4 linked regions of the Homo sapiens genome follow. The protein of the gene in region 3 binds, or shares a complex with, the protein of the main gene of each other region. Links are inferred from orthologs where the notes say so. Each region holds a gene or a part of one and is shown on either strand. Other genes may lie near its edges.

Region 1 (7,030 bases), on a different chromosome or scaffold from region 3:
TGAGTTCTTTTACCACTGAATGGTGTTGGCACCCTTATCAAAAATTATTTGACCATATATGTGAGTGTTTATTTCTGGGTTCCCTTTGCAGTCAGCCCTGTCCCTTGACCTGGTTCCAGGCAACCACTGATCTGCTTTCTTTGTTTCTACTGTTTTGCTTTTCTAGGGTTTCATATAAATGGAACCATACAATATGTAGTCTTTTGTGTGACTATTTTTACATAGCATAATGTTTGTGAGAGTTGTCCATGTTGTGTGTATTGGTAGTTGTTTCTTTTGATTGCCGAGTGTTATTCTGTTCTATGAATATATCACAGTTTTGTTTATCCATTAACAAGTTGATGGATGTTTGGGTTCCAGTTTTAATACTGGTGCTATGAATTGCTTCCACGTTTTAGCTATTTTGAATAATGTTGCTATCAACATGGGTATACAGATACCTTGTTGACACCCTGCTTTCAGTTCTTTTGGGGTATATACCCAGAAGTGGAATTGTTGGATCATGTTTTTAATTTTTTTGAGGAACCTCCGTATTGTTTTCCACAGTGGCTGTCCCATTTTATATTCCTACCAACAGTACGTGGGGTTTGATATAGTCACATTCTTCTGTTCGACACTTATTTCCTGTTTTTTTTTTTTTTTTTTTTTTTTTAATTGTAGCCATCCTAATTAGTGTGAGGTGGTATCTAATTGTGGTTTTGATTTGTATTTCCTTAATGATTAGTGATGTTGAGCATCTTATGGCCATTTATATATCTTTGGAGAAAGGTCTGTTTAATCAAGTTCTTTGCCCATTTTTGAATTGGGATTTTTTTTTTGGGGTAAGTTTTAGGAGTTCTTTGTAGATTCCGGGTATTAATCTCTTATCACATACACGATTTGCATATATTTTTTCCTATTTTGTGGGTTGCGTTTTTATTCTGTTGATACTATTTTCTGATGTATAAAATTTTCACAGCTTCATGAAGTTTGTCTATTTTTTGGTGGTTTGGTGTGATATCCAAACAAATTATTGCCAAGTCCACCTGAATCTTTTGCCCTATGTTTTCTGGGAGTTTTAAAGTTTTAGGTCTAACATTTAGACCTTTTATCCATTTTGAGTTAATTTTAGTATATAGTATTAGGTAAGGTTTCATCTTTGTCTTTTGCTTGTGAATATGTCATTTTCTCAGCACCATTTATTGAAGAGTCCTTTTACCACTGAATGGTCTTGGCACCCTTATCAAAAATTATTTGAGCTAGGCTAGGCACGGTGGCTCACACCTGTAATCTTAGCACTTTGGGAGGCTGAGGTGGGCAGATCACCTGAGGTCAGAAGTTTAAGACCAGCCTGGCCAACATGGTGAAACCCTGTGTCTACTAAAAATACAAAAATTAGCCTGGTGCGGTGGTGTGTGCCTATAGTCCCAGCTACTCAGAAGGTGGAGGCAGGAGAGTCTCTTGAACTGGGGAGGTGGAGGTTGCAGTGAGCCGAGATTGTGCCACTGCACTCCAGCCTGGGTGATAGAGTGAGACTCTGTCTAAAAAAAAAAAAAAAAAAGAAAAATCATTTGCCCACATATGTAAGGGTTTATTTCTGGGTTCTCTAGTCTATTCCATTGTCTTATATATCTCCCTATGCCAATACCGCACTGTTTTGATTATTGTAGCCTTGTAGTAAGTTTTGAAATCAGGAAATGGGAGTGCTTCAGCTTTATTCTTTTTCAAGATTATTTTGTCTATTGTCCCTTGTTTCAAGATTACTATCCCTTGTTGGGATTTTGATAGGGATTGCATTGAGTCTGTAGGTTGCTTTGGATAATGTTGACATGTCAACAATATTAAGTCTTCCAGTTCATGAATGTGGGATGTGTTTCCATTTATTTATGTCTTCTTTAATTTCTTTCAGCAGTTTTGAATTTTTTTGTTATCCAAGTCTTTTGCCTCTGATTAAGTTAATTCTAAGTATTTTTATTATTTTGAGTATCGATTAATTCTTGCTAAATTTGTTTTCTAGGCTTTATCAGTTTCAGATACCGGTCTTATATACACGCATTAACTAAATATGTGAACCTCTGTTTGTAGTCATGATGGGCAGTGGATTTTGTCATCTGGGTTTCAGTGAGGTTTTTCTTTCCTTAGATGATTTCACTGTGATTGTTTCTTTACCATATCTGAGATGGAGTCTCACTCTGTCACCCAGACTGGAGTACAGTGATGCCATCTCGGCTCACTGCAACCTCCGCCTTCTGGGTTCACGTGATTCTTCTGCCTCAGCCTTCCAAGTAGCTGGGATTACAGATGTGCACCACCACACCCGGCTAATTTTTATATTTTTAGTAGAGATGAGGCTTCATCATGTTGGCCAGGCTGGTCTTGAACTCCTGACCTCAGGTGATCCGCCTGTCTCGGCCTCCCAAAGTGCTGGGATTACAAGGATTGATTTTTAACCATTTCTGTAGCAAGAGTTTATTATTACATTTATTATTGGGTTTCTAATGGACACAAAGATTGAACACCACAAACTGGTAATAAAAGCAAATAACATAATAGTAAATTCATTGCTGTTCTGAGTGCTTGAAGTTTGTAGAATTAGCTGATTGAGAATATTGCCCACATATTATATTACAAAGCCATACATTTTATTAGATAAGTAAGTTGCTTTTTGAGTAATGACCAGCATGCTTTTAACACTTTGAGGACACCAAGATTCAGTTGCTGAATTCTCTCCAATATTTTTCTTTTTTCTAGGGCAAGAGGATTATGACAGATTACGACCGCTGAGTTATCCACAAACAGATGTATTTCTAGTCTGTTTTTCAGTGGTCTCTCCATCTTCATTTGAAAACGTGAAAGAAAAGGTAAGCTGATCAGATACTCTTGCCCTAAGAAGATCATCTCAGAATTTCTACTGACCTGTTATAAATAGCATTAGAGGCTTGTTGATTAACAAAGGTGTATTTTAAAATACCTTTTTTTAGTGGGTGCCTGAGATAACTCACCACTGTCCAAAGACTCCTTTCTTGCTTGTTGGGACTCAAATTGATCTCAGAGATGACCCCTCTACTATTGAGAAACTTGCCAAGAACAAACAGAAGCCTATCACTCCAGAGACTGCTGAAAAGCTGGCCCGTGACCTGAAGGCTGTCAAGTATGTGGAGTGTTCTGCACTTACACAGGTAAGAATGGCATGAAACCCCATGTGTATTTATGGTCGAGTCATTTATTAGAGCATTAGGATACAGGAGTTATTTCTAACAGTGATCAGCAGTGCTCAAAGATGCCCAGCAAGAATATGAACAGCTTCATATTGTATGTTCTTTTGTTAGAGGCCTCTGTGTTTTTTGGAGAATATTATTAGTTCCTAAACCCCTTGTGTTGGTAAGCTCTCGTATTGTACTGAATGATTCGTAGTGGTCAGGGTTGTGTTAAAACAAAAACCTTACAGGAAAGGTTCAGATAAGCATAAACTTGCAAGAGACGATGTGAATGATTTTTTTTTTTTCTAAACACTTAAATTTTCATCTGAATATGTCTGATCTTTTCTTGCCAATTCTGACAATTGATACTATACTGTTTCTTGGGCAATTCAACCAGGATAGGGAATTAGTCATAATAATTGAGACTTTAATGTCAAAGAAGGCAGCCATGGCTATTTCTGCCACAGTTCTCAAGCGTGCTTTATATAGTGTCCCTATTCCTATATTTTTGGAAGTATTCCTTCCTCATGCATTCCGGCCGTTTTTGAGTGATTTAATTGGAACTCCTTTTGTAGTTTGATGGGAAACTCAGATTTTGAAGATAGGGAGCAATGTTAGGGTATTTGGAATGGGACTTGTAACTGATGTGTATGGTTTAAACTTTTTCACCTTCATGATATCGCTGATTCCGTCCTTTGAGTACTGTTCTGGGGGCAAAGGAAAAGGTTATGGAAATAATTAGCACAAAAGTTTTATGTTCTACTGGTACTGGTGCTTTGAAGTTTGAACACTGAGCAGACATGCCTAATAGGGCAAGATTGAAGGGTGGAGGTTTCTAATAATTATATTAAACTCATTATATTTATGCTTATGTTTTCAGGTAATTCATTCATTTTTATTGTGTTTCTAAAAAACACTATTGGATTCTTAACTACGTGTATACTAGGGTAAATGGCATATATGATTACTTATTACATATGCACTAGGTATTTAGTTTATAGGGCCTAGTGCATAATTTAATAGTAAGTTTAGTACTTGGTTGGATATTTACAGATAAAACTTTTATGCTTAACTGGGATATCCCTCAAAATAACTTCGAGGCCTAGTATCAGATGATTTAAACATAATCTTCTAATCCTCGTTTTTTTGGGCAGTTTAGTGCTATTATAGAAGCAGTTATTTAAAAGTTTAGAAGATTTTACACCTTCTCATGCATAGCAACTGTTTTGAGAGTTTTAAAAAATGCCTGGTGCTTCTCTGTGTGTTTTAGTAACATTCCCAGAAAAGTGTGCCTGTGTGTGTATATTGGGGGAGACAAGGGAAAGTCATGTGTGAAACACTCATGTCCATGTTAGACACTAATTCTGTGTGCTTCTGATGCATACCTCTGTTCTCTAGATATGGGTTGCTTTGAGGGAAGACACATAGGCCCTGTGGATTCACTTTTAGGTTACTAGTGATGCTTTAGATAATTGGATGCTTTTAATGTAAGATTTTTACAGTATCAACAGGTGTATATAGTAAATCCGTTTGTAGAGAGTATGAAGTTTAAAAGGTCTTAGCAGGTACATTTTTCTTACCAGAGTTTGAAGTATGGAGAAGTCAAAAGAGGGGAAGTTAGAAAATGGGGTCTGTGGTTGTGTTTGGGAGCTAGAACTTTGAGGCTTACAGATTCTGTTTGTTGATTCCTCTAAAACTAAAGTCTTAATATAAACAGATGGTGGTCAAGCAAAGATTAGTTTTGTTTCATAGAGCATTTGTTGATCTTCGTCCATGGTAAGCAAGAAAGGAATTCCTTCTTGTTAAGGGATACACTCCAGTTTCTAATAGTCCTCCTCCTCTTTTTTTCCTTATAAAGTATATTTCCCTTTCTGTACTCCTTCCTTCCTTTTATATTTTACTGCCAGAGTTGGTTCCTAGATGTGCAGAAAGAATTGCAGTGGAATTTTAACTTTTATGTGGCATTTCTACTTTGTAAATGATGTAGAAAGAGGAAGGCTTTTTAACTTTTGCTGCTTTTAAAGAATTTACTGCTGTTTCTGATTTATTTTGTGTCTAATGTGACATGTGGGTACCAGTCCTGTGGGATGTCATGGATGGGGGCAGGGTGGAGGTGGGAACACTTGGGGTGGTCTGGGGTTGGCACTTACAATTGGAGCTGTGTTCTGGGACTTTTAGGACATATTTACTTGGGATCAAACTGATCAAACTAAAGAACATGTGAAACAACCTTGGGTGGTAAACTTGTGGCTTCAGATTTAGGTGATTTTAGGTGAGTCTGTAGACCTGGGTCCTAAGTACCACCAATGCTGAGTCACACTGTCATGTTGGAGTTTCTGGCTGAGGTGTAAGTGTATTTCTGTATCTTAATCCCCGTAAGATCTGAGAATATTCTTCGTTTTCACTCCATGCTTTATGCTCTGATACCCATGCAGACATCTTAAAGCACTGGACTGCTTGCTAAAACTCATTCTAGGACCCCATTCTTTGTTTTCTTATGACTTGGGTGGTGGTTACTTGCTCTAATAACATTGCTGAATAACTGAAGTGTATGCTGTTTTTAGAGTCTGTTCTTTAAAGTCCTTCTAGTTGGTACTGTTGCACAATTAACACTTTTTAAATGTCTGAACCTTTCCGTTCTGGGAAACCAGTTTACTCTGAAATCTTGATTAATCACATTCAGATATGTCATTGAACCTAGAAACACATAGCATGCCTGTTAGTCTGCTATTTGTGTCCTTCAGTTATTCAGGGGCTGAATTCACATAAGCCTGAAATTGTAATAGATTTATTTCCAAAATGTGTTAGAAGTCAACATATTGCATTTTAATAAAAATTGCTTTCCTGCTCAGTTAACCTTGCTTGAGGTGAAGTTTTTGGTCAGTTATCTACTCTCCTGGTTATAATGGGCTTAAGATCTAGCATTCTAGCGTTTTTCTTAAGGCACATTGCTTCTGTGAATTCAGCTCATTTAATCCGGACTGCTGTTGTACCTGCTAGTCTTTCTAATCCTCTAACCTGGCTGCTATTCTCTCTCCTCCCCTCTGTCTTGTAGAGAGGTCTGAAGAATGTGTTTGATGAGGCTATCCTAGCTGCCCTCGAGCCTCCGGAAACTCAACCCAAAAGGAAGTGCTGTATATTCTAAACTGTTTTCTCCTTCCCTTCTTTGCTGCTGCTTCCTGTCCCACTACTGTAGAAAGATCGTTTAAAAACAAAGGAATAAAACCATCCTGTTTGAAAGCCTCTGCGTCTTTTTACTCACCACCTTAGAGCAACCTCTGTATTAGTTTTTGATCAAGAATGCAATATCATATAAATTTTTTGTGATCAGTAGTCAAGTTGGACTTGTTTTAACGTTCTGCTGCTTGAGTTGCCTGATGCTCAGAGCTTTTTGGTTTGGATTACTATTGCAAAAGGGAACTTGGTCTGGCTTTAAGAATGTCCTCTTGGAGAAAATAACAAGAGTTTTAACACTTCTAGATCTTAGTTCTAGATGGAGAAAGTAACACAAACATCATTTTACTCTTATGATCAATTGTTAATTGTAATTGCATGACAAACCTTATGGAAAAGGGGTGACCTAGTAGAGTGTAATGGGGAAGGGAGGATTCTTTTCTGGTTTTCCTTTGTGCGGTGAAACTTTGTGTTGCTGTTGCTTTGGCTGTCTGTGCTGTAGTGGAGTATTTGTCAGTCTGGGGTGGGGAAGATATTGATGTATCTGCTACTGCTTTATGAGTTCATTTGTTACATTATCTTTTAAGAATAACATCCATTTAAACAGTTGACTTACAGTTTGTTAATGCTGAGATGTAAAGCTGCCACCTTTATATTTTCCTGCTTCTGATTTTATT
Region 2 (3,522 bases), on a different chromosome or scaffold from region 3:
ATTAACATCCGTTCATTTTTCAGTTAGGAACTTTGCTGGGGAAAAGATAATTAGATGAGGATTTTGGAGTAAGTTGTCCATTCACTGAAATATTTTCAAAGATTGTGTCTGAGACTTAGATTTGAAAAGTAGGAAATTACATTTAGTTTGTATACTTGGTCCAGAAATTCAGGTGTCTCCAGACTGTTGTCAGCATTATAGAAACTCTTAATTGCACTAAAGAAGTCTCCCTACTTTTTCAAAATAAACTTTTGAAATTGAGTTTTATTATGACATCTAATTGATTTACAAATACATTTTAATGTGTTAACGCATACGAATATTTTGTAAATAGAGAGTGCTTCTGTAGCCTCACATAGCTGACTTGGCACATCTAATTTTAATAACAGCTCTACCATGTGAGGGGAGTTGAAGCTGCTGTGAGTTATAATTAATGCTATGGCTCTACCAGCTCCCTGTGATTATCCTAAAAGTTACTCGTATTCTGGTGTGAGTTGATGTTTATAAGGATTTATAAGAAAATTAGATGACTTTGAAATAGTGACAAATCTCTTTAAACCTTAGCTGCACTATACGCTGAAAAGAAGCGTCAAACACAAGACAAAAAACCAGAATATTTTATACGATACAGCACTACTGACATCTAGTGGTAGTGAATATAAAATTTGACATATACATATATTTTGGGTTATACACCTTTGAATTGCATCATAGAAGAGCAATTAGAAATCGTAAACCTATTTTTTTAGACGCAATTAAAAACAAGGCTACTACGGTGAAGTTATCAGTAAGCAAACACCTTAAATAATTTAATTTGGCCTTTTCTGAATGATACTGAGTATGCTACTTAAAATTTGATCTTCATTTTCCTCTGGAAATAATAGATACATTTAGCCTCACTGGTAAAACTTAATAGTTTAAACTTATCAAGCATGTTAAAATTTGGGGAGAGTTTGTAAGTAAGTAACTCCCCAGGTTTATTAAGTTTATATTTTGGGGGCAAGTAATAACATGTACTTGACATCAGCCAGAATTTTTTTGCCCTAAAATAGAAGACAAATGGTCACTTTTTTTTTTTTCTGTAGCTAGTGTAAAGATAGTTGTATAGAACTTTTGCTTGCATTGATTGGCTTCCAAGATGCAGTCAAGTTTACTATTTTCTGTTTAGTATATTACTAGTTTGAAAGTTCTTTTTGGAAACCTACTTGACTTCAGTGCTTGGCAGTTCATGGAAAACTAACTTAATGTTAACTTATTAATCCGGGTTCTGTCTGCTAAAACTTATGTGACTTTCTTGATTAACACTTCTTTTGAAACACTTTTCTTCTTTCTCTTTCAGTCTTGGTCTTTGTAATGGGAAAAGAAGGGGTCCATGGAGGCGGATTGAATAAGAAGGCATACTCAATGGCAAAATACTTGAGAGACTCTGGGTTCTAGCTGCTAGGCAGACTGTTAAGTATTAGGGGAAAATTGCTCTTAAACTTTCCTAGCTATAAGCTTAAGTCTTAATTCTGGAAATTTTATTAGCAATGCAGGGTGATGGGGTATGAACCTGTGTCTCCTTTGTATCCCTCTGTTGGTGGGGAAAGGTGTCTTTCTTTCTGCCCTCCCCCCCCAAAATAATTCTGTTCACTTTTGTTTTGTTTCCTTGTGTACTCCAGCATTGGTTATAGTCATGGGAAAGGAAGGTGTCCACGGAGGCACACTTAACAAGAAAGCATATGAACTCGCTTTATACCTGAGGAGGTCTGATGTGTAAGCAGCCTCTCCCCATCTACCTAGCAACTGTCTTCATCAACAACCCTAATTATGGTCACAATGCTACCAAACTGTAGATGGTAGCTAATTTTTCTTTACCTATTTTCTAATGTCATGATTCCTGTTTGCCCAATGGATCATTTGTATGTTAACCACTGTATGTAACCAACCCTTATCTGGCAACATAATTGCAGCACAATAATGATTTGCATGATACCTTGAAATTGGGGGGAGGGGGCATGCCAAGTTGGGCATCACTTTGTCTTAGCAATTAATGGGATATTGATTACTAAAATAAGTTAATATTAAGCAAGGTGCCGGTTGTACAATCTCTGATCAGTGTCTTTTCAGCACTTTGAGCATTTACTTGGCTCATTTAGTCTTCCTTTTGTAGCGCATGGTTGGGAGGAAAAAGTGCATGCATCATTCCTTCACTCTTCTCTTTTTCCCGCCCCCCCTCCCTTCGCACATAGGCATTTGGTTTGCTTCCATCTTTTTTTATGCAGTGCCTGTTTTTTTTTAACCAATTAAAATCCCTTTTGTTGATGAGCTATTGAGAGCTGCAGTAGTTTGCTTTTAGTATTGTTGTTGCACTTGAGCAGAGACAAACCTTTATTCATAGTGTCTACAGGACATATGAAGAGTGCAATGGCAAAACAAGAGCAAAAAGCACTTCCTCCCATGACCTTACAGTAACCATACTGATTGAATCCCCAGGGACATTCCATCATTGCAATAGCTCAGATTTTTCTTCCTTTTTCTTTGCACACCAGCTCTACTCTTTAGTAAAATTGTAAAAGGCTGCCATTATGGACATTAGGTATCCCAACATAACCATCTGGAGTGTGTCCAGTTTGTTCTTCATAGGACCAATTTTTATTTGCAGCTTGAGTTTTTATATGAAGTTGCATTATTGTGGACTTGGCTGTCTTGTGATGAATTTTTTTCATATGTATTCTGTGCCATACTATTGTTAAAATGAACTGTTGCTATTGTGAGATGGATTTTAACTGACCTATTAAGGGTTTCTTTCGAATGGCACTACTTTAGGGACATTCTAGTATTTGCTTCTATTGTTTGGGCCTTGTGGATAATGTACAGATTTAAAAACAAATCTTGTTGCTGATTTGTCCATTTCTTTCCCTGCACTTTGTTACATCTGGGATACAGTCTAACTCATCTGATTTAATATGCATTTAAAAAAATGCCATAACTATTAAACACCTTGTTTACAGACAGATGAAATAAATTTATTCCAACCAAATACTCTAGGCTCCTGTTGTTTATATACATTGTTTATATAAACTGTTAAAAGTTGATTTTTGACAAAGTGGGAATACACAGAATAGGCCAAAGTCTGCTGCAAGCATAAAACTTCAGCAATATTAGGTGATGGCCTACTTCAAGTAATATTACAGATAAAATTAGTGCCTGGGAATTTCTTTTTAATGGACTCTGATCTGTTACACATAGCTTTTAGTCATTTCAGGCTCATCTTCAGGAGTATGTGAGAAGCAACTGACTTATCTGCTAGAAAATAAGTATTTTCCTCTTCTTGCTGGTTTCTAGATGTGAAATCTAATAGTAAAGGGAGTACCAAGAAGGGTTTCTGCACTATTGTGGATTTTTCTGTATTGAAATGTCATATGACTTTAGATTTGGAAGCTGTGTTGGCAGGCTGAAGTCAGCCAGCTGGGGCCCTCCCACATAAGAGCAGAAGACATTCCTTAGGCAGCATATAAGATAATTGGGATGCTTTTGCAT
Region 3 (7,191 bases):
AAAATTTTTATTTTCCTTCATCTTAAGGACTTGTGAAAGGAAATGGAATAATGCCGGAGAAGGGGTATGCTCATGGCCCAGGAGAAGACAGACTCATGAAGAACCAAGGGGTAATACCAGGCAGCCTGGCTTCAGCCACTCACTGTCAGCACGTCTAACAATCATGTGTTTTTAAAAGATGATGCCCAACCACTTTTAAACTGAGGGTCCATCTCCTTTCCACACAAGATGCCTCAGAGGGTAAGAGCAGATCTCAGACAATTTGTGAGCTCTGTGTTCTCACCAGTTAATCCGTATTTAGAACCTGCATAAGCCAGGAAAGGTATGTAGCAGCTAAAGGAATTATAAACCCTCAAATGCAAACAACCTTCGGGCACACTTAGTCCAAACCAGTGCAGTTTTATACAGTACATTCTTAATGGAGTTCCAGAGGACACATACTCTAGAAAAGGTGGAGGCGGCGAAAGACCTTTGAGTTCAGTTTTAGCCTATAGTTCAAGAAAACTAAGCCACGGGTATCAAAAGCACACCAGCAATCTCGCCCACTCCACCCACCCACGTATACATACACAGACACAAAGAGAAGTGGATTGCAATGCTCCTCCTCATCTCTCATTTCCACAGAGTTCTCATAAAAGGAGCAAGAGGAAGAAAGAATATTCTGATGCCTTGAGATAGGTTACATTTGGCAATAAAAGGGTTAAGCAGCACTACTTTCCTAGAAACCTTCCAATTCCGTAGCTACTAATGCAATTTTCCTCATTACCTGAGCTATTTAGTTTTAAAAATTCAGCAGATTAAGGGTTAAGACTAACACCGCAGAAAGAAAAGAGAACTTGGTTCAGCTCCATCCTCTCTAAAGCAAATACCTACAACCCTGAGCCAAATCCATTAAACATATAGAAGACTTCATGGACATTCCAAAAGACAGGTGAAAAGGGGTTGAGCTTCCTCAGGTTTCTCACCTTACAGTACCACACACATAGTAGACTTCACAAGTTCGTGAAATAATTGTTAGATAAAATAGAGTACATATAAAATTCTACTCAAGACATGAAAACAAGTCACTGAGGTCACCACAAGTCAGCAGCAATAGCTGGAATTTGGGTGAGGAAGGTCAAACAGTACTCATGGAAATAAAATCAAAACAAAAAGATACAGAAATAGAAGGAATATGAGCCCTAGAACTTAAGTTTTGGAAGGAAAGCTAACGGGGGGGAGGGGTCAATTCTTATCCTAAAGAAACATACAAAAATGCTGCTTTAGTCACCAAAGAAGGAGGGGGTGTCAATACCCTTAACCTTATATTTCTAGGGGGGGAAAAAAAGATGTTCACCAGATAAAAACAGATGGTTACTGACATCTCAGATATCACTGGAAAGGGCAGTCCAGGAGCACTTGGTCTTGCTAGAAATAGGAAGAGATGAGTCACTATTTTAATTCTATTTAGAATTAAACATCTAACCCTCCAGGGTTAACATCTCAACCCTCTAGGTCATAAAACAACATTTTCTTCCTGTTTCCATCGCTTTATCAGTTTTCTTCCCAAATTTGTGGAGCTGGGTCAAAATGTTGGGAGGTGGGACTAAGAGTTACAAGCCATTTGTTTAGTAGAAAGATACACTAGTGTAAGGGCATAAATACCTGGAAGAGAAGACAAAAGAGCTACAGTTATAACTAGCTATTATAATGATCATCAATATCCAAGACTTTTCCTCTCCTGGACAGTGCCCCGTATCTTACAAAGCTTTTATAGCAAAAAAGCAACCAAACGGCTCCCTGGAGAGAGGCGTTGGTGTGGGCAAAAGGTAATGAAATATGATAGGGTTACATGTATATCACTATTCCTTCACTCGGATTGAAAGTAACTGGCACTTGAGGAAAGCTTACTCTTCTACAGGCACGCAAAGGGAAGCCGATAGTCGCCTTGGGGCACAAGAGGCAGTAGAAAAGGAGTAGAGGAGACGGTTATCATGGGAAATGTATAAAAAACAATTCAATTACAAACTTCTTGAACTCGCAGTCCAACTTTCTTCCCACAGGAGAGGTTTATCACCATCCTAGGTCAAGAAGGGCACAATCATGAGAGTTCTAATCCTCTGAAAAGTGATAAGCAACAGGGCAAAGAGAGAGGTTCTCTGGAGAGAGGAATACTGGTAAACAAATAAACGTCATGCCCCAGTGACCATAGGACCTGGGCAGGAGCCCATTCCTGTAATCGCAAGGACAAACGTCCAAAGAAGGAGTTGGGGGTAGGGCTCAAGTCAGGTAACATTCCTCAGGGGAAGGATTATCAAGTGACACCGGGCGGAGGGCCCACGGGGGACTGGGCGGGAGGAAAGTTAGCAGGTAAAAAGGATGAATCATGGAGAAGGAAGTGACCTTTAGGAGAAGGAAATACGAGAATACCAAAAAAGGTGTAAGGTTAAGAAGAGAAAATGGACCCAGAAGAGGGGACCAAAAAAGAGGAGGCGTGTTCGGGTACTGGAGGAAGAAGAAAGGAAGTGAGGCTGAGAGGGGAGAGACGGGGCTGAGAGCCGGCCGGGGATATGCGGGCGGGAGGGCAGAATGTAAGGGCTGGGGAACGAGGGAAGCCCCGAGGTGGCCGGGGCAAGAGCCGGGTGGGATTCCGGGGCTTCCCGAGGTCCCGAAGGGAGAGGATGTCGGGCTGCAGAGCTGCGGACCGAGCGAAACGAGGAAGGAAGGCGCGGGGGCGGCTCCCCAAAGCCGGGCAGGCGCCCCAGGGGCCGGCTGCAGGGGTCCAGAGGGCGGTTACGGGGCCAGGCAGGAGCGGGATGGGAGGGACACTCACAAATTTCTTAGATTTGCCGCCGTCGCCGCCCGCCGAGGGCAGCTCATCTGGGCTCCGGCCCTTCTTCTTGTCCCGGGTCCCGCGGCCGGGCCCCAGGCTCCCGCCGGGCGGCTCCATGTCCCGGTTCACGCTGGCCGGCGACCCCGCGCCTACGCCGCTCCCGCCTGGCAGCTCCGCGCCCGCCGCCGCCCAGTCGCTCTTTAGCCAGCCGCCGCGCCCCGCCTCATTAGCATGCCGGGCTGCGCGCGCCTCATGAATATACAACGACGACGCCTCGCTCCCGCCCGCCTGCCCCACTTCCGCCCGGACCCGCAGCCCCTACCAATGGGGGAAGGGAGAGGGGCGGAGGGAAGCCGCGGAAGCGCGCTACCTGCCCAGCGGACCTAACCATTCGGACCCACGTGGGGGGGGGTGGTGAGTGGGCGGTGCAGCTCTCCGCGGCCGCGGCGGAGAGCACCGCCCCCTGGCGGTTGGAGCAGCGCAGGCCTCTGGCTCCCACGCAGCGCCCACGTGGCTGTACAGCCTGACAGCCTGGACCCTCTCACATCCCAGACCAAAAATCGCGTGAGACCATTATCCTGGCAGAAAATTAGTGACAGGTTTTCCAAGAGAATGCAGTTTTCAATGTGTGCAATACCCATGGAACACATGAAAAAAATTATAGTGATAGCCACCATGTTTTGAAAGCAAGGTAGCAAGAACAGAGCTCGGTCCAGGGCAAGCACTAGACTAAACCAGACTCGCTCTGGAGTTTAATTTCCTAGTTCGAATTCCAGGTTAGGTACCATCTAATTGTTTCTAATCAGGACAAACTAATTATTGCCAACATGTGCCTAAACAGCAATAACAGTTACCACTTAACCATGCCCTTTGCTCTCTGCTAGGCACTAGGCAAACACTCTACATGTATTTTTCTAAGTCCCCACAGTCCCATGTGATAGATTCTGCTAGCCTCACCATTTTATAAATAGTAAATTTGGACTTTTGAGAGTTGAAGTGACTTGCCCAAGAACGCATAATTGATATAAAATTTAAACCCAGCTTAGTCTGATTTGCTGCCAAACCCTATGTTTAACCAGGATTCCCCACTGACATAAACCAAACATGAGTGAAAAGAATGAGTATTCTCCAAGAGTATATTCTTTGCTCTTCTAGCATGACTTTCTCCCTAAGCAATTTCATCCATTCTCCCAGCTACATCTGTCCCTTGTGTGACAGTTACGTGGCTACCAGTCGGCCTTCACAATATGGACTGAATATTCTTGACCACAGCTAGCAAGATTTCAAGCATAAGTTCCTGAAGGGCAGAGTCAGTGACTTACTTACTCTAGAGCCCCAGTACCTAGTCAAGGGCCTGAGATATACCAGGGACTCTGCCAAGCTGGCTGGCTCCTAAATTTGGCATTCATCTCTCTTGTGGTCCAGACCTTCTGATGGTGATCGGATAGAATGTTACATAGAGCTGTCCATCCCATACTTCAAACTTGACTTAGTGCTGAGCTTTCCAGACATTTTGTCTAAAAAGTCCAAAAGCTACTTTCTAAGCTAGTGTTGAGAACAGACAGAATCAGAGAATGGAGGGGAGGAAGTGACCCATCTATCAGTCCTCTTTCTTGTATCAGTCTGTATCTGCTACAATATTTATCATACTACTGACTGGAATGTAAACTCTTCTAGAGAAAGGTTCATGTTTGTGGCTACTACAGTATTTAGCATTGTTCTTCACATAGACAGATAATGGGCAACTTCTTCTGTCAGGCACTGTGCTAAGCACTTAACATGTTTTATCTCAGTGTATCTTCACCAACTAGCATCACTACTCTAAACACCCAGATTCAAAAACCTGAAGTCATCTTCTACTCCTCTCAAATCTGCCCAGGTTTGTCTAACTCTTAACCAAAATCCTCTATTAACTTCTTATATTTACAATAATAAATGTAGAATACATACACAGGGCCTAACGTAGGATAAGTGCTGAATGAATGTTAACTATGCTTTTATTACATGCATCATCATGCCCATTTCCCTCTCCTTTCATAAATAGGAAACTAGCAAGAATTAACATTCCTAGAAAGGCGAAAGGTACAAAAAATACCGACTTAGTTTATTGGATAAAAACAGTGGTAAAATGGACATAAAGCCAAAAGTGAGAACAGAACATTTTCATATCCTCCCCACACTTGAAAACATACTTCCCATCATCTGGGATTCAGGTGTTAGGGAGCCAGAGCCCCTTCCAAATCTCTCTCTCTTCATCTTCCCTGGAAGCAAGGGGAGGAAGAAGTCAGAACCCAGGGGAGGAGGAAGTCAGAGGCAATCTCAGTCCTTGTCTACCCGTTCATCCCTCAAAAATCTCTGGGTTCGAGGGAAGCAGGGAAGAAATAAGGGGCAAGGGGGGCTAGGGACTGGCCTCCAGGGCCCACTGCCAATAATGTCCCAGATAGCTATCCTTGTCTGTATCTCATCCCTAATAGGTACCATTGTCAGGCCTTGGGAGAGAGAGGAAAAGCAGGTAGATGGTTCGAGAACCAAATGTGGTCTCCAGACTCTTTCCCAGAGTCAGCAAAAGCCCTGGGGTGACCCCCAGGACTCTAGGAGCCACTCCTTTTCCCTCCAGCCCAACCAAGAGGTGAAAAGAAATTCCTTGGGACACAGCATCCCAAGCCACTCTTAAATCTCCACATCGCTTTCCTTGTCATTGTCATGGTCTCCATCATAGAACTCATTGGGTGCCTCTGGCCTGCAAAGCAAGGGGAGAGAGGTCAGGATCTCACTCTAAGTTCTAATCTTCTCCCAGCACCCTTTTCCAAAGCCATTTCTCAGGCCCCGTTGAGAACCACTCCTCCTCTTGTTGGTAGAGACTGCTATTCATTCACCCATTCACGTATCAAATAAACATTAAGGAACTACTCTATACAGACACTGTCATAAACCTTAGCAATACAGTAGAGTAACAAGCTGGACAAGGTTGTCTATCCTCAAAAAGCTTACCTAATAAATGAGACTAGTAACTAACAAAGTAAATAAATATAATAATTTCAGATGATGGAGAGTACAATTAATAAAATGAAGTGATAGGACTGAAGGTGATGAGAGGAAAAGGGTGAAATTTCAGACAGGACTATTGGGACATAAGACCTAAAGTCTGAGGAGGAGCTAAGCAGGCAAAGACTTCAGGAAGGCCATTCCAAGCTGCAAGAAAACCAACTACAGAGGTCATGAAATGGAAAGAGACTGATGTATTCCAGTAAGAACAAGGAGGCCAGGACAGCCGGGAGCACTGTGCATGGAGGAGAGTAGTTAGAGATGAGATCCTGGATGTAGGTAAGGGCTAGCATGCAGGACCTTTTTAAGCCACAGTCAAAATTTTGGATTTTCTTCTAAGTGCAAGGTAAAGGAGAGTTTTAATTTTAAGAAGAGTGACGTGGTATTATAAACCCATAGTGAAAGAATGGATGTGAAAGCAAAACAGGGCCCAACAGGTACTCAATATTGGTTTCTTTCTTTTTGAAAAAGTATTCTCAAAAGCCGGGCGTGGTAGCTCACACCTGTAATCCCAGCACTTTGGGAGGCCAAGGCAGGTGGATCACAAGGTCAAGAGATCAAGACCATCCTGGCCAACATGGTGAAACCCCGTCTCTACTAAAAATACTAAAGTTAGCCGGGTGTGGTGGCACATGCCTGTAATCTCAGCTACTGAGGAGGCTGAGGCAGGAGAATCGCTTGAACCTGGGAGGCGGAGGTTGCAGTGAGCCGGGATTAGCCACTGCACTCCAGCCTGGCAACAGAGTGAGACTCCATCTCAAAAAAAAAAAAGAAAGAAAAGAAAAAGTATTCTCTGGGACACAGAGAATTGAGAAAGTCATCAAAGAGAAGCTGAGGCACTAAGCCAGGAAAGGCCTTATCTGCATGGTGAGCAATGTCTCAGTTACTTCTAAGTGCACAGGGTTAAAGGTGTGGAGTCAGAGAATCAGGTTGAATCTCAGCCCTGATCTTTAACTAGCCATGTGACCTTCAGAAAGTTACTTAAGTCTCGCCGGGGGCGGTGGCTCACACCTGTAGCCTGTAATCCTAGCACTTTGGGAGGCCGAGGCAGGCAGATCACCTGAGGTCAGGAGTTCGAGACCAGCCTGACTAACATGGAGAAACCCCATCTCTTCTAAAAATACAAAAAAAATTAGCCAGGCGTGGAGGCTCATGCCTGTAATCCAGCTACTTGGGAGGCTAAGGCAGGAGAATCGCTTGAACCCGGGAGGCAGAGGTTGTGGTGAGCTGAGATCATGCCATTGCACTCCAGCCTGGGCAAAAAGAGCGAAACTCCGTCTCAAAAAAAAGAAAGAAAGAAAGTTACTTAGACTCTCTGAGCCTTAGATTCCTCC
Region 4 (7,897 bases), on a different chromosome or scaffold from region 3:
GCCGCTGGTGGCAGTCTCTCCTGCGCCACCCTGGACTCTGCGGGGTGTCCGACTAGGCTTCGGCCGTCCTCCCCGGACTGTGCGCTCGGCCTCACTCCGCCGCTCTCCTTGCTTCTCTGCGTCTCGGGGTCTCTGACACTCGGGGTTTCTGCGCCCCGCCCCCGCCCCGCAGACGTGTCCCGGGCGGTTGAGCTCCTCGAGCGGCTCCAGCGCAGCGGGGAGCTGCCGCCGCAGAAGCTGCAGGCCCTCCAGCGAGTTCTGCAGAGCCGCTTCTGCTCCGCTATCCGAGAGGTGAGGGGCGCGCGGCGCAGGGGCGCGAGCTGGTGGCCGTCGTCCTCCTCCTCCTCCTCCTGCTTGTCCCGAGCCCGGAGACTACGCCTCCCGGCAGCTCCCGAGGCGGCCCGCCTTGGGGTGCCAACGCTTCAGCTCAGGGGTTCTTCGGGAGTTGTAGTTTTCTCGGCCTTCTGTTGCGGGGGCGGGGCGGATCCTTGCGTGGTAGCGGGAGAGGGTCTAGAGGCCTGAACTCCTGCGTCTAGGGCTGGAGGAGCTGGCGACTCCCTGATGCCGCTGCCTCCTCACCCAGGTGTATGAGCAGCTTTATGACACGCTGGACATCACCGGCAGCGCCGAGATCCGAGCCCATGCCACAGCCAAGGTGGGCCCCGCACCCCATTGCTCCTGGTGTCTATTTAACTGCCTAGTCGAACTCAATATCTCCTTCATGCCAGTCATTTCTGTTTCCTCCCTCATGATTTTTGCTAAATCTATGTGCCACCTTACTATTAGTAAATAATCGCACATTTTTAACTTAAATGTCATACTAAGGCATCTTTAGCAACTGCAAATGGAAACAGTATGGCATGGTTGGTAGAAGATAACCTTCAACATCTGTACAGTGCAAACCAGGAAACTCATGGCGCTCTGACCTCTCACTGCACAATAGTTAGATGCTGCTACCTCTTGCTGCTGTCCGGAGGCTCAGATCTCCCTCCAGGCCTGGCTTTCCTCTGTTTAAAAGTAAGATTGAGGCCAGGCACGGTGGCTCACGCCTGTAATCCCAACACTTTGGGAGGCCGAGGCAGGTGGATCAGTTGAGGTCAGGAGTTCGAGACCAGCCTGGCCAACATGGTGAAACCCCGTCTCCACAGAAATACAAAAAAAAAAAAAAAGAAAGAAAAAGCCGAGCGTGGTGGCGAGTGCCTGTAATCCCAGCTGGATTACAACTCCGGAGGCTGAGACAGGAGAATCGCTTGAACCCAGGAGGCCGAGGTTGCAGTGAGCCGAGATCATGCCATTGCACTCCAGCCTGGGCAACAGAGTGAGACTTCATCTCAAAAAAAAAAAAAAAGTAAGATTGGCAAGTATGGGGTATTCAAGACACACACCAAATGGACACTTTCTCTTGCAAGTGAACAGAAAGAGACGCACAGTCATTACAGGGGGATCGTGCATTGTGCCATGACAAGTGTCCCATGCTTGGGGATAGTAACCCAGGCTAAATCGCTGTCCTCGGTCCACATCCCCCACCCCAGCTTTCATGCCTACCTGGAAGGGGCCCTCATCTTCAGTCGCTTTCTCTCTCCCAGGCCACAGTGGCTGCCTTCACAGCCAGCGAGGGCCACGCACATCCCAGGGTAGTGGAGCTACCCAAGACGGATGAGGGCCTAGGCTTCAACATCATGGGTGGCAAAGAGCAAAACTCGCCCATCTACATCTCCCGGGTCATCCCAGGGGGTGTGGCTGACCGCCATGGAGGCCTCAAGCGTGGGGATCAACTGTTGTCGGTGAACGGTGTGGTGAGTGGAGGGCTGAGGCAGGACTGGGGGACACAGTCTGTCTAACGTAGCATAGCCCCTGCTTTTGACATTCACTCAACACACACTGAGTGTTGTCTGTATGGCTAGCCCTGTGCTGGGCAATGTTACAGACTCTGAGAGATGTTGGCCTCAGCTCCCTACACTCAACCTTCTCTCTCTGGGGAGGGCAGTAGGCCCCGGCTGAAATAGTCCTAATCCAGAGACATAATAATGAGGAAGTGCAAAGTATTGTGACAGCCCAGATGTGGCACCAGGCCAGCATAGATACAGGAAGGTTTTGCAGAGTAAGGAACATTTGGGTTGGGTGTTAAAGGATGAGTAGGAGTTCTCCAGGCAAACAAGGTACAGGGTGTTCCTGCTGAGGGTACTGTAGATAAGGATACTGACTTGGCATACCTCTGAGCTGAAAAGAAAGGGCTTAGTTCTGATGGAGGTCTGGGGCATGCAGGTAATTAAAATCACTGTGGTTAGGCTGGGTGCGGTGGCTCACACCTGTAATCCCAGCACTTTGGGAGGCTGAGGCACGTGGATCACTTGAGGTCAGGAGTTCAAGACCAGCCTGGCCAACATGGTGAAATCCCATCTCTACTAAAAATACAAAAATTAGCCAGGTGTGGTGGCAGGCACCTGTAATCCCAGCTACTTGGGAGGGTGAGGCAGGAGAATCGCTTGAACCTGGGAGGCAGAGGTTGCAGTGAGCTGAGATAGCACCACTGCACTCCAGCGTGGGTGACAGAGTGAGACTCCCTCTCAAAAAAAAAAAAAAAAAACAAAACTCACTGTGGTTAGAGTTGAGGGAAGCATAACTGGAGAGATGGCTGGGGTCAGCCATACAGGACCTGAGTGCCAGCCTGAGAAGCTGGGACTTTGTCCCATGGGTGCTGGGGAGCTATGGGAGGGGTGAGCCAGGGATAAACTCAGCTTGCAGGTGCAGAAGGACCACTCTGGGACTCTATGGGAGATGAACTGAGGGGAGAGATTAGAAGCCAGGCCAGGGAGGAGGCTGGGGTAAGAGTCCAGAGAAAAGAGGACAAGGCCTGAGCTGGCCCAGGGCTGTGGGGACAAAAAAGAGGGAGTCAAGGCGGGCGGACATTAGTGGGCTGTGGGCAGGGAGGCCACAAAGATGGGTCTGGACGTTTGGCCAGGGACTGAGGGAACACGGGGCTGTCCCTGACATGGGAATCCTGGGAGGTTTTGGAGGAGGACACTGAACCAGGAGTTAATGACTCCCACGAGGAGGACATGAGGCATTGACATCTCAGGGCTGGCACCAGGCTCACTAGCAGTGGGTCCCATCTCCCAGTGGGGGCTGGACGAGGGCAGCGGGCCCCAGGCTCAGCTGTCTGTGTTGGGCCCTGCAGAGCGTTGAGGGTGAGCAGCATGAGAAGGCGGTGGAGCTGCTGAAGGCGGCCCAGGGCTCGGTGAAGCTGGTTGTCCGTTACACACCGCGAGTGCTGGAGGAGATGGAGGCCCGGTTCGAGAAGATGCGCTCTGCCCGCCGGCGCCAACAGCATCAGAGCTACTCGTGAGCCCCTGGGTCACCACACCCCTGGGGCCTCCACGGGCTCCCTTTAACCCCAGGCTCCCAAACCAGGCCAGTGCTTCCTGGATCTTCCAGCCCTGGCCCCTCCTCTGGGATCCTGACCCTTGACCCTTGGCCCAGGCTCTCACCCCAGGCTAGTTTGGCCAAATCCCCTGGGGAGCCCTTAGCTTCCTTCCATCCCAAGATACGGAACCTACTGTGGCTGGGATCCCTCAGCCCACTTACCTGGGCCCTTGCCTCTGCAACCCCAGTCCTGCCCCTCTTGTCTACCCGGAGCCTCCCTGATCCCGGGTCCCTTGTCCACCCCCCTTGCAGGTCCTTGGAGTCTCGAGGTTGAAACCACAGATCTGGACGTTCACGTGCACTCTCTTCCTGTACAGTATTTATTGTTCCTGGCACTTTATTTAAAGATATTTGACCCTCACTGAGTGTCTGTGTGTCTGTCCTGCATCCCTGGGTTGGTGTCTTGAGATGTGGAGGGAATGCGAGGAGCTGAGGTCAGGCCAAGCCGTTGAGAAGCCTTTTCCAGAGTCTGAGAACAGAGGTTAAGACCTCTCCCTAGGTCTGAAGGCGGAGACAGGCCGGCTTCCAAGAGACTAGTCCGAGGGCGGAGGGCGGAGGCAGGGACCCAGTCTGGGTCTGAGTGCTGGGGCAGAACTGAGGACAACGCTGCCTACCCTTAAGAGCGTCTGAGGGCGAAGGCCAAGTCCCTTCCTCCAGAGTCCTGAAACGCAGCCGGAGCCAGTGGGCGGCCTCTGTGTGGGCGGGGCGGAGCGAACCATTAGCCTCGTCCGCCGGGGGAACCCTGCAGGCCGCACTACTGTCTGCGTGGGAGTCGCGGGTGGGGGTGCCGCGTGCAGTTCCCGAGGCGGGCGCAGGGGTGCAGAATGAGGTGCCCTCGCCCACCGGGCGCTCACTCCACCTTCCAAACACAGCGCGTCTTTCCGGAAGCAGCCCCCGCCTTGAAATCCAACCTTTAGCCTCATCCCGCTGCCCGCCCAGCCCTCGTGTCCCGTGCGGCGCGAGGGCTAGTGCGCGCCACTGCCGGGAGCCGGGGTCGCGACTCGCGTTCCACGCCGCGCGCTACTCGCTCCAGGTGACATCATCCCCCTGCCGGGCTCCGCCTCCCGCCCCAGCCGCCTCACGCCGCGTGCCTATTGGTCGACGCGCCTTATGCCCCGCCTCTCGCTCTCCGCCCGCGCGACCCCTCCCGGCCGGTGTGGAGGCGGGGTCTAGTCGCCGGCCGGCGCCGACGCTCTCTCCCATTGGCCGCTCTTCGCCGTCTGTCAGTCTCCTGTTAAAGGGGCCACGACCGCCCGGGAGCCGTGGGGGGGGAGGGGGAGGGAGGAGGAATTTTTTTGGGGGGAAGGTGGGATTTGGGGGGCGCTGGTGGGCACCCCTGGATCTGGCGGCTGCGGCCTCGCGGGGGGAGGCTGATCGGTGACAGGGGCAGGGGGCTATTTTGGGGGTAGAAGGCAGTGAGAGCGTGAGGGGGAGGGGGGTCCCCAGCGCCCAAGCCGGAGCCAGAGACGCGGAGCCCGCGCGAGCGTCGGAGACAGGGCTCCAGGGCTCCGAAGCGACAGAGCCGGGCCCCGGCCGCTGCCAGGGGCCCCGCCCGGCCCCCCCACTCCACCCCACGTCCCTCCTGCAGCCCAGCTCCGCCCGCAGCCGCCGCGGACCAGGCAGGTAAGAGCCCGGCCCGGCCCTCCTGGCAGCGCCCACCCTGGGGACCCCTTGGCGAGCCTCCCCCGCCTCCCCGAGATCCCGGATTCCCTTCCTCATCCCAGGGGACCCCCGAGCCCAGATTTCACACCCCAACCCCGGGGACTCAGGCGTGCCCCTCCCGGCGCCCAGAGTCCCCGACCGAACCCTAGAATCCCGGGCGCACCGCCGCCTCGCGCCTCCTCCAGGGCCCAGGAGCTTGGATTTCCCGGTCCGGCCCCGGGACCCCTCCTAGAGCCTAGATCCCCCTTCCTGACCCTGTCCTGGGAGCTCCAGACACCCGCCGCGGCGGTGCCAGACTCCCCAGACGCGTCCGCATCGTCCCCGCTTCGCGCACTCCGTCTCCCGTCGCCAGCCTCGGGCTTGCACAGCCGGCTGCGTCCCACGGTCCAGGCAGGCTCGGCGGCCGCCCTGGACACAGGCCCGCTCTGGAGCTGTCCATGGTCAGCGCGCTCGGCAGCCTCGCCTCCCCCCACCTCCTGCCGCCGCCACCAGGGAGGGGGCGCAGGCGGCGCGGGGATCCCCCCGCCGCGCCTTTGACCCGGGAATACCCGGGCCCTCCCCGACCAGGGCGCCCCAGCCTCTGGGTTCTGCCGGCCAGGCTCGTGGCCCCGTCCTCGGCACCCCAGGTTCCTGGGACTCCAGCTGCTCCCTGAGGATCCAGGGCTTCTGAATTTTCCTATTCTGGTCGCCGTGGGGACCATGGCACCCGGGGATGCAGCTCCCACCCCGTTCGGGAAGCCTGTCCGTGTCTACACCTCTGCTGGCCCCAGGTGGTAGCCCTCACCCCGTCAGCACCTAGGAATCCTGTTCCCCAGCGTTTGCTCTGCTTAGAACCCCGCTGTGCCCTGCAGACACACAGACTTAGCCTCCTGGCACCCAGCATCTGCTCCCCGAGGGACTCAGGCGCCATGACTCCTTTCCTTTGGGGGACCCGGAATGTGATTCTCAATGCAGTTCTCTGACTTCTGTTCACACTCCCACTTGGGGACCTAAATGTCTTGGTCCCAGTCTCCTATCCCCTCAGGGACCCAGGAGTTCAGACCCCAGCTTCCGTACTGCCCACCAGCTTTTACTGAGGCTGTCTGCCTCAACCCTCTCTCCAAACAAGACCTCAGGCTCTCACCTTCCAATCCCCCATCATTTACCTCCACAAGGATTCAGGAGTCCAGGCTCCCAGCTCTGTCCACTGCCCTCCCCAGCAGGTATCTAGTTTCTCAGGTCTCACTTTTAGGAACCAGGTCTTCACAGCCTCATCACTCTGCCCCATCAACTTCACATCTCCTGTGGCCCTACCAAACCCCTGTCTCATCCTCATGTCACCCCAGGTGGCGGGCTTCAGGACTCTCTACTCTTTCCCCTAAGATGCAGCTTGTTGAGATGTTTCTAGCACTCCATTGCCCCCTGAGGCTCAGATGAGTTCCCCTTCTCCAAGTACACTCTCCCAGGCCAATGAGCCGAACACACATCACCTCCTCCAGATGTATTCTGTGGCCTGGGCTCATAAGGAGATCTAGAAGCTACCTGCTGCCATACAAATTTCTTTCTTTCTATTTATTTATTTATTTATTTTGAGACAAGGTCTCTGTTGCCCAGGCTGGAGTGCACTGGCACAATCACAGCTCACTGCAGCCTCCACCTCCTAGGCTCAGGTCATCTTCCCACCTTAGCCGCCTGAGTAGCTGGGACCACAAGCACTCACCACCAGGCCTGGCTAATTAAAAAAAAATTTTTTTGGCCAGGCGCGGTGGCTCATGCCGGTAATCCCAGCACTTTGGGAGGCTGAAGCGGGCGGATCACCTGAGGTCAGGATTTTGAGACCAGCCTGGCCAACATGGAGAAACCCTGTCTCTACTAAAAATACAAAATTAGCCAGGCGTGGTGGCACATGCCTGTAATCCCAGCTACTCAGGAGGCTGAGGCAGGAGAGTCGTTTGAACCCCGGAGGCGGAGGTTGCATTGAGCTGAGATCGTGCCACTGCACTCCAGCCTGAACGACAAGAGCGAAACTCTGTCTCAAAAAAAAATTTTATTTATTTATTTATTTATTTATTTTTTGTAGAGATGGGGGTTTCGCCATGTTGCCCAGACTGGTCTGAAACTCCTAGGCTCAAGGGATCCTTCTCTGTTGGCTCCCAAAAGTGCTGGGATTACAGGCATGGCCATCGCGCCTGGCCGGGCCACATTTCTTGTCGCACATGTGCTCTTGCATTGCTCCATGTTCTAGATTCCTTCTAAACACCAGAACACTCCCAGCTGATGTCTGTTCTGTGTTCCATTTTCATTCCAGGCATGGTCTGAGTTCTAGGCCAGATGCCAATTTTTTTTTTTTTTTTTTTGAGACGGAGTTTCACTCTTGTTGCTCAGGCTGGAGTGCAATGCTGCGATCTTGGCTCACCACAACCTCTGCCTCCCGCGTTCAAGCGATTCTCCTGCCTCAGCCTCCTGAGTAGCTGGGATTACAGGCGCCTACCACCATGCCCGGCTAATTTTTTGTATTTTTAGTAGAGATGGGGGTTTCTCCATGTTGGTCAGACTAGTCTCGAGTTCCCGACCTCAGGTGATCACCTGCCTCGGCCTCCCAAAGTGCTGGGATTATAGGCGTGAGCCACTGTGCACAGCCTTTGTTTTTTTCATATATTTAGATAAGACCCCTGAGCCAGATTCTGATCCCACCATATCCTCAGACATGTTCCAAAGTTCTAACAACAAGTCCTTCCTTCTTTGCTAAATGTTCATTTCAAGTGTGTTCCAGGTTTCAGCCACGTTGTTCTAGATTCCATTCTCTTCCCAGGAGCAATCTAACTTCTAAGAT

The links.
Region 1: the proteins of DIAPH1 (region 3) and CDC42 are in contact, whole or in part, in a crystal structure (PDB 3EG5), measured with the Mus musculus proteins. The link is inferred for Homo sapiens from one-to-one orthologs. Residues at the interface, in NP_031884.1 of Mus musculus: Met90, Asp93, Met94, Asn95, Leu96, Lys100, Pro103, Leu104, Lys107, Ile111, Met115, Gln118, Tyr119, Thr122, Ser133, Tyr139, Ser158, Arg160, Val161, Ser162, Leu163, Pro167, Val168, Val171, Arg210, Lys213, Ala214, Asn217, Asn218; in NP_033991.1 of Mus musculus: Val36, Phe37, Gln61, Glu62, Asp63, Tyr64, Asp65, Arg66, Leu67, Pro69, Leu70, Pro73, Glu95, Lys96, Pro99, Glu100, His103, His104.
Region 2: the proteins of DIAPH1 (region 3) and PFN2 are in contact, whole or in part, in a crystal structure (PDB 2V8F), measured with the Mus musculus proteins. The link is inferred for Homo sapiens from one-to-one orthologs. Residues at the interface, in NP_031884.1 of Mus musculus: Ile635, Pro636, Pro637, Pro638, Pro639, Pro640, Leu641; in NP_062283.1 of Mus musculus: Ala2, Gly3, Trp4, Ser6, Tyr7, Asn10, Ala28, Tyr30, Trp32, Arg108, Met131, Tyr134, Leu135, Ser138, Phe140.
Region 4: the proteins of DIAPH1 (region 3) and PPFIA3 are in contact, whole or in part, in a crystal structure (PDB 4UWX), measured with the Mus musculus proteins. The link is inferred for Homo sapiens from one-to-one orthologs. Residues at the interface, in NP_031884.1 of Mus musculus: Lys252, Ser255, Ala256, Ile259, Gln307, Asn310, Ala311, Thr314, Pro315, Ala316, Glu317, Arg322, Gln352, Cys354, Val355, Glu358, Gln359, Glu362; in NP_084017.2 of Mus musculus: Pro719, Arg720, Arg723, Leu724, Arg726, Met727, Ala728, Ala730, Leu731.

The regions. Positions count from the first base shown.
Region 1 is NC_000001.11:22,083,709-22,090,738, forward strand, and holds part of CDC42 (cell division control protein 42 homolog isoform 1 precursor), read left to right. Parts: intron 1-2,730; coding exon 2,731-2,840; intron 2,841-2,960; coding exon 2,961-3,158; intron 3,159-6,234; coding exon of another isoform or gene 6,235-6,324; exon of another isoform or gene 6,325-7,030. UniProt on the Homo sapiens protein: Plasma membrane-associated small GTPase which cycles between an active GTP-bound and an inactive GDP-bound state. In active state binds to a variety of effector proteins to regulate cellular responses. Involved in epithelial cell polarization processes.
Region 2 is NC_000003.12:149,964,404-149,967,925, reverse strand, and holds the end of PFN2 (profilin-2), read left to right. Parts: intron 1-1,339; coding exon 1,340-1,437; 3' UTR 1,438-1,661; coding exon of another isoform or gene 1,662-1,759; 3' UTR 1,760-3,022; downstream 3,023-3,522. UniProt on the Homo sapiens protein: Binds to actin and affects the structure of the cytoskeleton. At high concentrations, profilin prevents the polymerization of actin, whereas it enhances it at low concentrations. By binding to PIP2, it inhibits the formation of IP3 and DG.
Region 3 is NC_000005.10:141,615,986-141,623,176, forward strand, and holds the start of DIAPH1 (protein diaphanous homolog 1), read right to left. Parts: upstream 3,016-7,191; 5' UTR 2,930-3,015; coding exon 2,813-2,929; intron 2,312-2,812; exon of another isoform or gene 2,060-2,311; coding exon of another isoform or gene 2,009-2,059; intron 1-2,008. UniProt on the Homo sapiens protein: Actin nucleation and elongation factor required for the assembly of F-actin structures, such as actin cables and stress fibers. Binds to the barbed end of the actin filament and slows down actin polymerization and depolymerization.
Region 4 is NC_000019.10:49,114,677-49,122,573, forward strand, and holds the start of PPFIA3 (liprin-alpha-3), read left to right. Parts: upstream 1-4,867; 5' UTR 4,868-5,046; intron 5,047-7,897. Other genes in the region: LIN7B (protein lin-7 homolog B), read left to right, coding at 173-291, 584-655, 1,587-1,796, 3,179-3,342, 3,676-3,697; putative uncharacterized protein C19orf73, read right to left, coding at 3,957-4,346. UniProt on the Homo sapiens protein: May regulate the disassembly of focal adhesions. May localize receptor-like tyrosine phosphatases type 2A at specific sites on the plasma membrane, possibly regulating their interaction with the extracellular environment and their association with substrates.